Linked DNA regions of Homo sapiens: region 2 is linked to region 1. The links come from fine-mapping of genetic effects on gene expression. A gene starts in region 1. The other region holds a variant in brackets. All regions are shown on one strand. Distances are between the middles of the regions. Region 1 holds the start of LDB1 (LIM domain binding 1). Region 2 has its middle 14 kb from the start of HPS6.

Evidence for each region. PIP is the estimated chance that this variant, and not a neighbour inherited with it, causes the effect.
Region 2: its variant is fine-mapped to the expression of LDB1 in whole blood (INTERVAL, PIP above 0.99).

What each region holds. Positions count from the first base shown.
Region 1 is chr10:102,117,346-102,122,661 of GRCh38, reverse strand. It overlaps LDB1 (LIM domain binding 1), which reads left to right and starts at 2,294. Exons shown (of 11, transcript NM_001113407.3): 1 at 2,294-2,576. The coding sequence starts at 2,552. It also overlaps a transcript of PPRC1 not described here. RefSeq lists enhancers at 155-904, 905-1,656, 1,657-2,408, 4,114-4,815, 4,816-5,316 and silencers at 1,905-2,034, 2,055-2,354, 2,415-2,494, 2,585-2,654, 4,988-5,227.
Region 2 is chr10:102,077,055-102,082,422 of GRCh38, reverse strand. No RefSeq gene overlaps it. Among named protein-coding and RNA genes, the nearest start is that of HPS6, 14 kb to the right of the region's middle. The variant G/AG (reference allele first, on the strand shown) is at 2,944.

The DNA.
Region 1 (5,316 bases):
TGACCAAGCTAGTTGTTTGGAATGAGTGGCCTTAGGCGTAAGTGGTCACAGGATTGGAGGAAGGCAAATTCATGGACAGAAAAGAGAGAAGGAGGTCAAGGTAGGTATTCCCCCTCCTCCAAACCATCTCAAATTGTCCTGCCAATCCAGCCCCCTCCTCTCTTGGAATTGGATAATCTTAAAAAAAAAAAAAAAAAAAGGGCAGAAAGAACACGTATTTACAGGACTGCCTGGCTGACACTGGGCTACGTGACTGGGTGTACATTGTCTAGTTTGATACTCACCAAGCCATAGGTTACAGAGGATAAAGCTAGTGTCCCAGGTGGGGTGGTCAGTTGTCTCAAATCACTCAGGTATTGAGGAGCGAATCTTGCGTTCAAACCTAGGTATCCACAATTTCGGGCCAGTGTTCTGTTGCCTTATGTTCTCTCTACTCCCTCTAGTGCTGACCTTTGTCTGGGAGAATGCAGGGAGGGGGTGCACTCAGGCAGGGGATGCTGCCAAGGAAATACTTGTGTGAGTGTGGATGGCTTCAGTCAGGTCCTCTCTGCTCCTGGTGGGGGTGGAGATGGGGAAACCTGGGGGTGGGAGACTCCACAGTGTACAAGCTCCCCTATCCCCCATCCTAAGCACATGGTGGGGAGGGTCTCCATTCCTAGGCAGGCCTTCTTTTCAATCCCTGGACTCTGCACCGTTCCATCATTTCATGCTCCCTCAGCAAAAACCTAAGGTGGAGAGAAGAGGTCTCATAAACACTTTAAGCCTCCGCATTTGTAACCCTCCCCCAGCCAGTCAAGCCAGCTGTGCAGACTCTGAGCCAGAGTGAGGGAACCAAACAGCCTTCTCAACCAACACCCCTCTAAGTAACAAAGAGGAGAACCCCCTACCCAGTCAGGGCCAGACGCCCTAGGGAGGAGACACTAGTCCAAGTCTCCATCGTCTATCCCTGGAGCCCATACTGAAACTTAAGAAAGAAAAGCTAGCAGCTGGGGACCCCAGGAGGGAGGGGGTCAACTCTCTACTCCAGGCGGCTCCCCTCCCTTCCCTCCTCCTGGCTAATAGGTATTTCCTGTTTATGAGGCAGCTAAAGCTGAGCTTTTGGGAAGGGATGGAGATGGAGCCCCTCCCCTCCTAGGGCTGGGTTGGGGAGTCCTTGAAGTGTGACTGAAGGTTGGGAGGCTCCTCCCAGGGGAAGGAGTGTTCCTTACATTGACCATCCACATCATCTCCCATCCAACCCCCCACGGCCCACAGCCTCTGCCTCTCTGGGTTAGGGGGCACTGGAGGGGCCTGTTTCCTGTTCTCATCTCCGAAGCCCTCAAAGGACAGCAGCTTCCAGGCAGGGGGGTCGGAGGCGGTGGGGTTGGGCGGTTGGTACGGAGGTGAAGGCACCAAGGCTGGAGAAAGGGGGGAAGGGAAGAGAGTGTCTTGACTGATGCGTCAGTCTGCAAGAAGGAAGGATGGCCTCCTATCGCCCCTCCGTAATCCAATCTGGTGGTCATTCCGCAGCCCCCTCCCCCCAGCAAAACACAGATCCCAAGCCCTTAGGCGGAGGAGGGCGGGGACCCCACTTAATTAACCCTTTTAGTTCTAGTCCCAACTGGTTTCGCAGGCAAAGGAGGAGTGGTTAATTTAGGGAAGGGGTGAGTTGAGGGGTTGCTACAAGAATTAAGAGAATGCTTCTTTACCCATCCAGCCTAGGGTAGGGACGCGAAACAAGGGGCCTCCAGAAGAAGGCTGGCGTCTCAGCAGGGAGCACGGACAGGGGGTCTGCAGTCCCTTTTCCCTCCCGGAGCGCGGCCCGGGGTGGAGAGAGATACACCACACTGCCCACCCCGGCTCCGCCTCCCCCAGCCGCGGCTCCCGCTCCGGCTCAGCCAGACTCCCCATCCGGCGGCACCCGGAGGACGGACACCGAGCGCGCGGCTGCGCCTCCAAGCCCTCCCCTTCGCCCTCCCTCTCTGGGGTCTCTGCCTCCGTCTCCTTTTTTAAAAGCTGCGTCACATGCATGCCGTTCCCCGAGCGCTCCCAGCCCCTCGCCGCCCGCCCGCCGCGCGGCGCACGCACGTCGTCGCTTGCTGCGCGCTCTCCCGGGTCACTTTGACACGGCTCTCCCCTCCCACTAGCAGGACAATTAGCATATTAATAAAGCCCGGCCCTGCCCGGCTTGGGCTGGGGAGCCGGCGCCGGCGCGAGGGAGCGCGAGCGCGAGGGCGGAGAGGGGGGCGCTCGGCGACGGCGGCGGGAGCGCACAGACACGCACACGCACACGCGCACACACGCACACACGGACACACACTCCGCGGACTCACACCCGCGCGCACACACGCAGAGGCCGCTCGCCTTCCTGCCTGGCTTCCTTCCTGTCTGCTCCGCGCCTGACAGGCCCCTCGCCGCAGCCAGGGGCCGCCCGCACCGGGCCGAGGCCGGGCCGGGCCGGCGGCGAGCGCAGCGGGGGCCGCGGGCGGCGGCGGCGGCTCATGCCCGGCCTGTCCCCGCGAGGGGCGGGCACCGTGACTCGGCTGGGCCCCCAGAGGCGGGCGATGTGAAGATGTCAGTGGGCTGTGCCTGTCCTGGTGAGTGGGGCGTGCGGCCACTCGGCCCCTTCCTGCCCAGCCGTCCCTGCGGACCCCTCACCCCGTGTTTGGCGAGAACTTGTGTGGGGGGCGTCGATGGCATGGGGGAAGCCGGGGGCTGGAAGGGCTACGCGGGGCCTCAGGCTGGCGGGTAGCGTTTTCCCCAACTGTGTAAATGCGCAGCAGCCCAGAAACACGGGGAGGAGACGCTGGGGGTGGCTTATGTGTATGTTTTTTTGGGGGTAGGCTAATTGGGGAGAGGTTTGGGGGGGGCTGAAATTCTCAGAATTCCAGGTTGTTAGCCAATCAGAAGTGACTCTGGACTTTTGACCCCCCCCCTCAGGTCACCATAGAGTTGTGATTGGCTGGTTTGGGCTGCCCCCCCTTCCCTGCTGCCCATTGCCTCTTACCTATCCTGTGACATCCCCCCCATGCTGTTTCTGAGGACCCTGTTTGCAGGGAGGTATTGATTGCGGCCCATCTTGCCCCCCACCTTCAACTTTTCCTGCCTGTTGCCAGGGAAGGTTGGCCCTCCTGAGGCACCGGAGGTACTCCTAAGAGGTGCCAGATAATTGGACCCTTGGGTCTGGCATCTCCGCCCTAGTGGGAGGGCAGGCTAGGAAATAGAGTGATTTGTGGAGAGGTAAGCTGGGGGAGCAATACTTGACCCAAAACTGAGAACTTGAGAGAGGACCCAGGCTCAGATCCCTGCCTCCCCAAAACATATCAGCTCTTGCCAGGGATAGCCTAGGTCTGAGTTTTTTTCCTGGGGGGCAGGTGGGGGGGGCGGAGGGCGTCTACCTCACTGCCAGGAGGAAAGAGAGAAGCCATGCGACTGGAGAGGTAGTCTACAGAGGGCCTCACGGCACACTGTCTGTCTCCATCCCCGGGACTCTGGGTCCTGGAATTGGCCCTCCTGCCCCAGACTGGAGTCAGCTTTCTCCTGGAAGTCAGTGTCCCTGAATGTAGCCCGCTTTGGCTACATACTTCACAGCTGGACACCCACCACTCCCCCACAAATCCCCAAGGGAAGCTGCCAGTGCGGAAGCTTCCTTGAAAATCATGTGACCCAGGCCAAGCTGGGCTGGGCACACACTTCAGGTGCCTGCTGAGGCTGATGTCTAAGGGGCATGGGTCCCAGAAGGAGGAATAAGAGAACCTAACAATCCTAGAATATCCGAGTATGGGAACCACTGGCTCCTGCTGCAGAGGGTTGGGGAGAGGAGAGGGAAGAGCTTGCCAAGCTGGAATCCTGTCTGGCCCCGTCGTCCCTCTTTCTACCAGCTTGGTGTACATGTTTATGTTGTGGATTTTCTCCTTTATAATTGACCCATGCTGGGTACCCCTTTCAGATCCATCATGTTCTTAGCCCACCCCAGGGCCCTGACCCTCCATCAACACACATGAGCAGAGCAGTTAAACTAAGGATCTGAACAAGCTAGAGGGATGAGTCTTAAATTGTGATTCTTAGTTCCTACAAATAGTGGGTAAGCGGGTATGTATGTATGGAGGGGTTGTCAGGCTGGAGGTGGATGGGAGGTTGGCCCTGAAGTTGGGGCAGGGTGCCTGGGTCCAGTGGGAGGAGAGAGAAAATCTCTTCTTCTTAGTCTCTGGGAGCAGCATGGGAACAGGAAGAGGGCCCAAGCCCAGGGGTTTGTGGGTGGGTGGGAAGACAACTTCAGTCAATGCCCCAGAAGGCATGTTCCTTTTGTGTCTGGTGGTCTGACTGAGGGAGAGAGGGCAAAAGATAGGGAAGAGTGGGGAGTCTTTTTCCAGATCATGAAGAAGTCTTATAGATTGATGCCAAAGAGGGTGGATGGAGGTTAGACTTCAAGGAGAACCACATGGGGAGGGCTTCAGAGTAGACTGGAGGTGGGGAATAGTAGCAGTTGAGGTTAGAGAGGGGACCTGGCTTGCAGCTTGCTTGGATGGGGGAGCACATGCTTGAACACAAGGAAGGCATGGCAGCATGTAGCAGTCCAGGCCCAAAGATTTCCCCCACCTTGAGCAGCCCTGGGGTGAGGGCTGAGGCGCCCTGGCAGGCCGCCTGCCGCCTGCCTGCCTGCCTGTCTGAGTCTCTCCTTTGTGTTCTGCTGTCTCCGGGCTCCTCCTCCTCCCCCAGCCCGGCAGAGACAGCACATGCCCCACACATGTGACTGAGGGAAGCCAGAGCGCACACAGACCCACACACATGCACACGCAGAAGCACCACAAGATACACACATACACATGCCCAACACCCATATTGCTCCTGGGGTGAGGACCAGCTTCTGGGGCTGGAATGGCTGGGAGCAGGGAGAGCCTCTGACTAAGGGGCATCACCCTGAGCAAGAGGCTGAGGGGGCCAGGGCCTGTCTGGGGCAGCATGTGGCTCAGAAGGGTTAAGGCAGGGAGGAGTAGGGGGAGGGGAGGAGGCAGCAGTGGTGGCGGCTGGGAGCCAGGAGAGGAGGATGGCAGAGCGCCAGGCCAACGGGAGGCCGGGCACAGACAAAGGAAGGGGGGCAGGCACACTGGAGGCCTGGGTCAGGGAGCCCCAGGGGCCCGGGCAGGGGGCAGTGCTGGTACCTCATCCTGTGGGCTGGGGCTGGCTGCTGTCCTTTGAGTCCCCACCTCCAGGAGGAGTACTTTCCCTCATCATCTTTGTCATTATTTGCTGCTCCCTCCACCTCACCACCAATTCTAAGGCCTTCTAACTCAGACTTGCTCTTTTTAGCTGGACCTGTTCTGCCCCTGTGCAACT
Region 2 (5,368 bases), 40 kb after region 1:
GTCCCAGCTACTTGGGAGGCTGAGGCAGGAGAATGGCATGAACCTGGGAGGCAGAGGTTGCAGCGAGTGGAGATCATGCCACTGCACTCCAGCCTGGGCGACAGCAAGACTCCATCTCAAAAAATAAATAAATAAATAAAAATAAAAATTAATTAATTAATTAAGTTGGACGAGATTGGTCTGATGTGGTTATACAGAGAGGTTAAGAAAATTACCTAAGGTTACACAGCCAATAGGTGGTGAAGGAGGGATTAAATTCTCATGAATTCTTATCCAGTGAGCCTCTAGGTACACTACTAACAGTTCAGAATGCAATCCAAACAGGTCAGCAGCATGCAGAAATGCCCCAGGCCTGAGTGGGCAGCTGAGCTTCCTTCAAGAAGCAAAGACAGTCATAAAATGGAAGGATATAATTTTACATACACCTCCTTTGCTTTCTAACTTGTAAAGCTCTCGGTCCTTTGGTCACACATCTGCTTTCCCCAAGTCCAAAGTTAAAATTATGCAGCTAGGCTGGGCACAGTGGCTCATGCCTATAATCCCAGCACTTTGGGAGGCCAAGGCGGGTGGATCACCTAAGGTCAGGAGTTCGAGACCAGCCTGACCAATATGGAGAAACCCCGTCTCTACTGAAAATACAAAATTAGCTGGGCGTGGTGGCACATGCCTGTAATCCCAGCTACTCAGGAGGCTGAGGCAGGAGTCTTGCTTGAACCAGGAAGCGGAGGTTGCAGTGAGCCGAGATCGTGCCATTGCACTCCAGCCTGGGCAACAAGAGTGAAACTCTGTCTCAAAAAAAACAAAAAAAAAATTTTGCAGCTATGGCAGTCCAGCCATGGCTGGGGTCCTACTCTGCAGCTGAGAGGAGTCCATGGGGAAAGGTTCTGGCCTTAAGCCTGCAGACCCATCTTCTTTCTAGTCCCAGCTCTCTCATCTGCTAGCCAAGGAGCCAGTGTGCTGTTTGTAGCTTAGTTTTCTCATCTGTAATCTGAGCATCATAACCCCTGCCCTGTGGGCTTCAGGGATAGGAGGATCAGATGAAGTGACTGACAGGGAGGTGCTTTGAGGTATGAAATGCTCTTCAGTGTGTTAGTGGGGAGGATGGAAGTTATCCAAAGAGTCTCCAGGATTGTGGCTCCAGCTTGGCCTGGCAGAGCAGTGCCTCCTTGGGCTGGGGTCAAAGCCAAGTCATCTTTCCACTGTCAATGCCAGGATCTATATTCCATTTATTGTTCTTGACTCCTTTCCTAGCAACCAAAGCTTTGAAAAGGTTCTGCAGAGCATCAGGGACCTTGCCCTTCAGCTCACTATGGAGAGGGACCAGCTGGACCAAGAGCTTCAGACACAGGGCAGCAACATCCAGGCTACCCTGGGCAAGTAAGGGAGCTCGGCCAGGAACTGCAAATTCACAGCCTAAAGCTCAACCTCAGTCTGAGCCTGGTGAAGCCTCTCCTGAGACTCTCAGCCTTTCCCTGGCATCCTGAGTCTGACCCACAAAAGACAGCCTTTACCCAAGATATAATATCCATCCCTCCTTAGGGAGCTGCAGTTATGAGGGAGACCTCACTCTTGTACAGTAGATGCATTTATTTGGGCTGCTATAACAAATTACCACACACTTGGTTTATAGCAACAGAAATTTTCTCACAGTTCTGGAGGCCAGAAGTCCCAAACCAAGGTGTCAGTAGTGCAGGTTTGTTCGGGAGGCTCCAGGAGAGAATCTGCCTCATGCCACTTTCCCAGCTTCTGGTGGCTGTCAGCAATTCTTGGTGTTTTTGGCTTGTAGACCCATCGCTCCAGTCTCTGTCTCTGCCTCTGCCTTCACATGGCTTTCTCCTTCTGTGTCTTTGTGTTTTCTTCTTTTCTGTCTTATTAGAAATATTCATTATTGGGGCTGGGCACAGTGGCTCACACCTGTAATCCCAGCAGTTTGGGAGGCTGAGGTAGGCAGATCACTTGAGTTTAGGAGTTCAAGACCAGCCTGGCCAACAAGGTGAAACCCCATCTCTACTAAAAATACAAAAACTAGGCTGGGCACAGTGGCTCACACCTGTAATCCCAGCACTTTGGGAGGCCCAGGAGGGCAGATCACCAGGTCAGGAGATCAAGACCATCCTGGCCAACATTGTGAAACCCCATCTCTACTAAAAATACAAAAATTAGCTGGGTGTGGTAGTGCGTGCCTATCATTCCAGCATTCCAGCTACTCAGGAGGCTGAGGCAGGAGAATCTCTTGAACCCAGGAGGCGGAGGTTGCAGTGAGCCGAGATTGCGCCAGTGCACTCCAGCCTGGTGACAGGGTGAGACACTGCCAAAAAAAAAAAAAAATTAGCTGGATGTGGTGGCCGGCGCCTGTAATTCCACCTACTCAGGAGACTGAAGCAGGAGAATTGCTTGACCCTGGGAGGCGGAGGTTGCAGTGAGCTGAGATCGTGCCACTGCACTACTCCAGCCTGGGCAACAGAGCAAGACTCCATCTCCAAAAAGAAGAAATTAAAAAAAAAAGAAAAGAAATACTCATTATTGGATTTAGGGCTCTTCTTAATCTAGAATGATCTTCTCTTGAGATCCTCACTTTAATTACATCTGCAAATACCCTTTTTCCAAATAAAGTCACATTCTGAGGTTCTAGGTGGATGCCTTTTGGGAGTCACAACTTGGTTTGTAACAAGGAGCCTCCAGTTTGATGGGAGAGACCTAACCCCACTCTTGGAGAGTCCTCTAGTCTTAGAGGTGAAATCTGCTCCTACTTTAAGAAGCCCTTGTATGACAAGGAAGACCTTGATTCGCAGCCTGGTCCTCAGGAGCCTTTAAATTGAGATAGGGCTGGGTGTGGTGGCTCACACCTGTAATCCCAGTGGAGGACTGCTTGAGCCCAGGAGTTGGAGACCAGCCTGGGCAACATGGTGAAACCCTATCTCTATTTAAAAAAAAAAAAAAAAA[G/AG]AGACAGGCCCACAAATGTTGATGACAAGGAACGGTCAGCACTGGCAAACATCCAGACCACTATTCTCTACAGAACAATGCGAGGACATTGGTCAGGATTTGGAAGAGTAAGGGCATTCATGTCAGAATTTGGAGGGGTTGGTTCTGCCTTGACAAGGCAAGTGAGGCAAGCCAGACATCTAGTCCTAATATATATATATTTGTGTGTGTGTGTGTGTGTGTGTGGAGATGGAGTCTTGCTCTGTCGCCCAGGCTGGAGTGCAGTGGCGTGATCTCGGTTCACTGCAACCTCTGCCTCCCTGGTTCAAGTGATTTTCCTGCCTCCCAAAGTGCTGAGATTACAGGTGTGAGCCACCGCACCCAGCCTTGTCCATCTTTTTTTTTTTTTTTTTTTTTTTTTTTTACTTTCCTCAGCTCCCAGATGTAAAAGAACAGGTATCATTGTTGAATACCTTTTTGAAAATGAACCTCCATGTGATCAACAACAAAATGGGACTGTTCTCTAGGATGGGAGGTGTCCCAATATGGGTGGGGAAGCCATCAGGGTTAAACCCCTAGGAAGATCCTTCTGTCAATTCAAGCTAGCTCCCTGAACACTGTTTTGTCCTATCTTACAAGGACAAGACCATTCAGCTGGGTTCCTTTTCTTTCCACTCTGGCGATTCCTCTCCCCTCCCCTCCCCTTCCCTTTTCTTTCTTTCTTTTTTTTTGAGGCAGGGTCTCTCCCTGTCACCCAGGCCGGAGTACAGTGGTGCAATCACAGCTCACTGTAGCCTTGACCTCCTGGGCTCAAGCAGTCCACCTCAGCCTCCCGAGTAGCTGGGACTATAGGTGTGCACCACCATGCCCGGCTAATTTTTTTTTACTTTTCATAGAGACAAGGTCTCACTATGTTGCCCAGGCTGGTCTCGTACTCCTGAGCTTAAGTGATCTTCCTGCCTCGACCTCCCAAACTGCTGAGATTACAAGTATGAGCCACTGTGCCCAACGACTCTGGGGATTTTTTTCCTGAACTGGGAGCCATATAATATCCAAATTGATAATCTGCACCCTCTTTCTTCCTTCCTACAAGCTGCAAGAGCCTCAGCCTGCTTACTGTCTACTTACTCAATCCCTGGGACTCCTCATTCCTCTAGATTGGAAGCTGAGGGGGGTACCATCTCCTCAGCTCTCCCCACACTTATTTGCCTCCCTGTTCACATCTCCCTAAAGAAAACTACATGGTACCTTTTCCTTTGAAGGATTTTACAGTTGATCATTGTGGGGAAAGAGACCCAAGGTTACCAAGTCGCTAGTCTGGGGGAAGGTGTGAAAATTTAGGAAATCTAGGAAACTTCTGCCAGCCCTGGTCTCTAGAATGAAAGGGCAGCCAGTAGTGTGGCTCTTTCTCCTCTCCTCTTAGTCCTGGCTTGAAGACACCAAGCAGGGCAACTGTTCATGTCCTCCTTGCCTCAGACATGACTGCATTTGAGCTTCTTCCAATTGGTTATTTATTTATTTATTTATTTATTTTTCTTGAGACGGAATCTTGCTCTGTCGCCCAGGCTGGAGTGCAGTGGCGCGATCTCGGCTCACTGCAATCTCTGCCTCCTGGGTTCAAGGGATTCTCCTGGCTCAGCCTCCCAAGTAGCTGGGATTACAGGCACCCGCCACCACACCTGGCTAATTTTTGTATTTTTAGTAGAGAGGGGGTTTCATCATGTTGGTCAGGCTGGTCTCAAACTCCTGACCTCAGGTGATCTGCCTGCCTCAGCCTCCCAAAGTGCTGGGATTACAGGCGTGAGCCTCCGTGCCTGGTCCTAATTTGTTATTCTCACCTCTGTATTTCCTCAGCCCCATGCGGGAACAGACCCCTTAAGGAAATATTTCTAGGAGAGCCACAAAGACTAAAGAATCTCAGTCCAAGGAGGTCTTAGTAGGGCTGACCTCCAATCTCCCTTTTCCTATAATCAGTCCCATGGAGTTGGGGTTAGAGAAAATTGCGATATTATCAGGGGACCCGTAGTCTCTCTATGGTACCCCAAAAATAGTGAACAAGAAGGCACAGATGTTGTAGTAGGTATGGGATGGGGGTATCTTCTGAGCTCCAGATCCCACTTTTACATTACCATCCCATTTCTACCATCTGCCCCCATCATTGTGAATACGCAGCTGGAAGACATTGGGATGTCAACAGAATTGATGAAACAGAAGATTTGCTGAATTCAAATTTTAAGAAATTTGGCCAGGCATGGTGGCTCACTCCTGTAATCCCAGCACTTTGGGAGGCCAAGGCAGAAGGATCACAAGGTCATGAGATGGAGACCATCTTGGCCAACATGGTGAAACCCCATCCATACTAAAATACAAAAAAAATTAGCGGGTATGGTGGCACACACCTGTAGTTCCAGCTACTCGGGAGGCTGAGGCAGGGGAATTGCTTGAA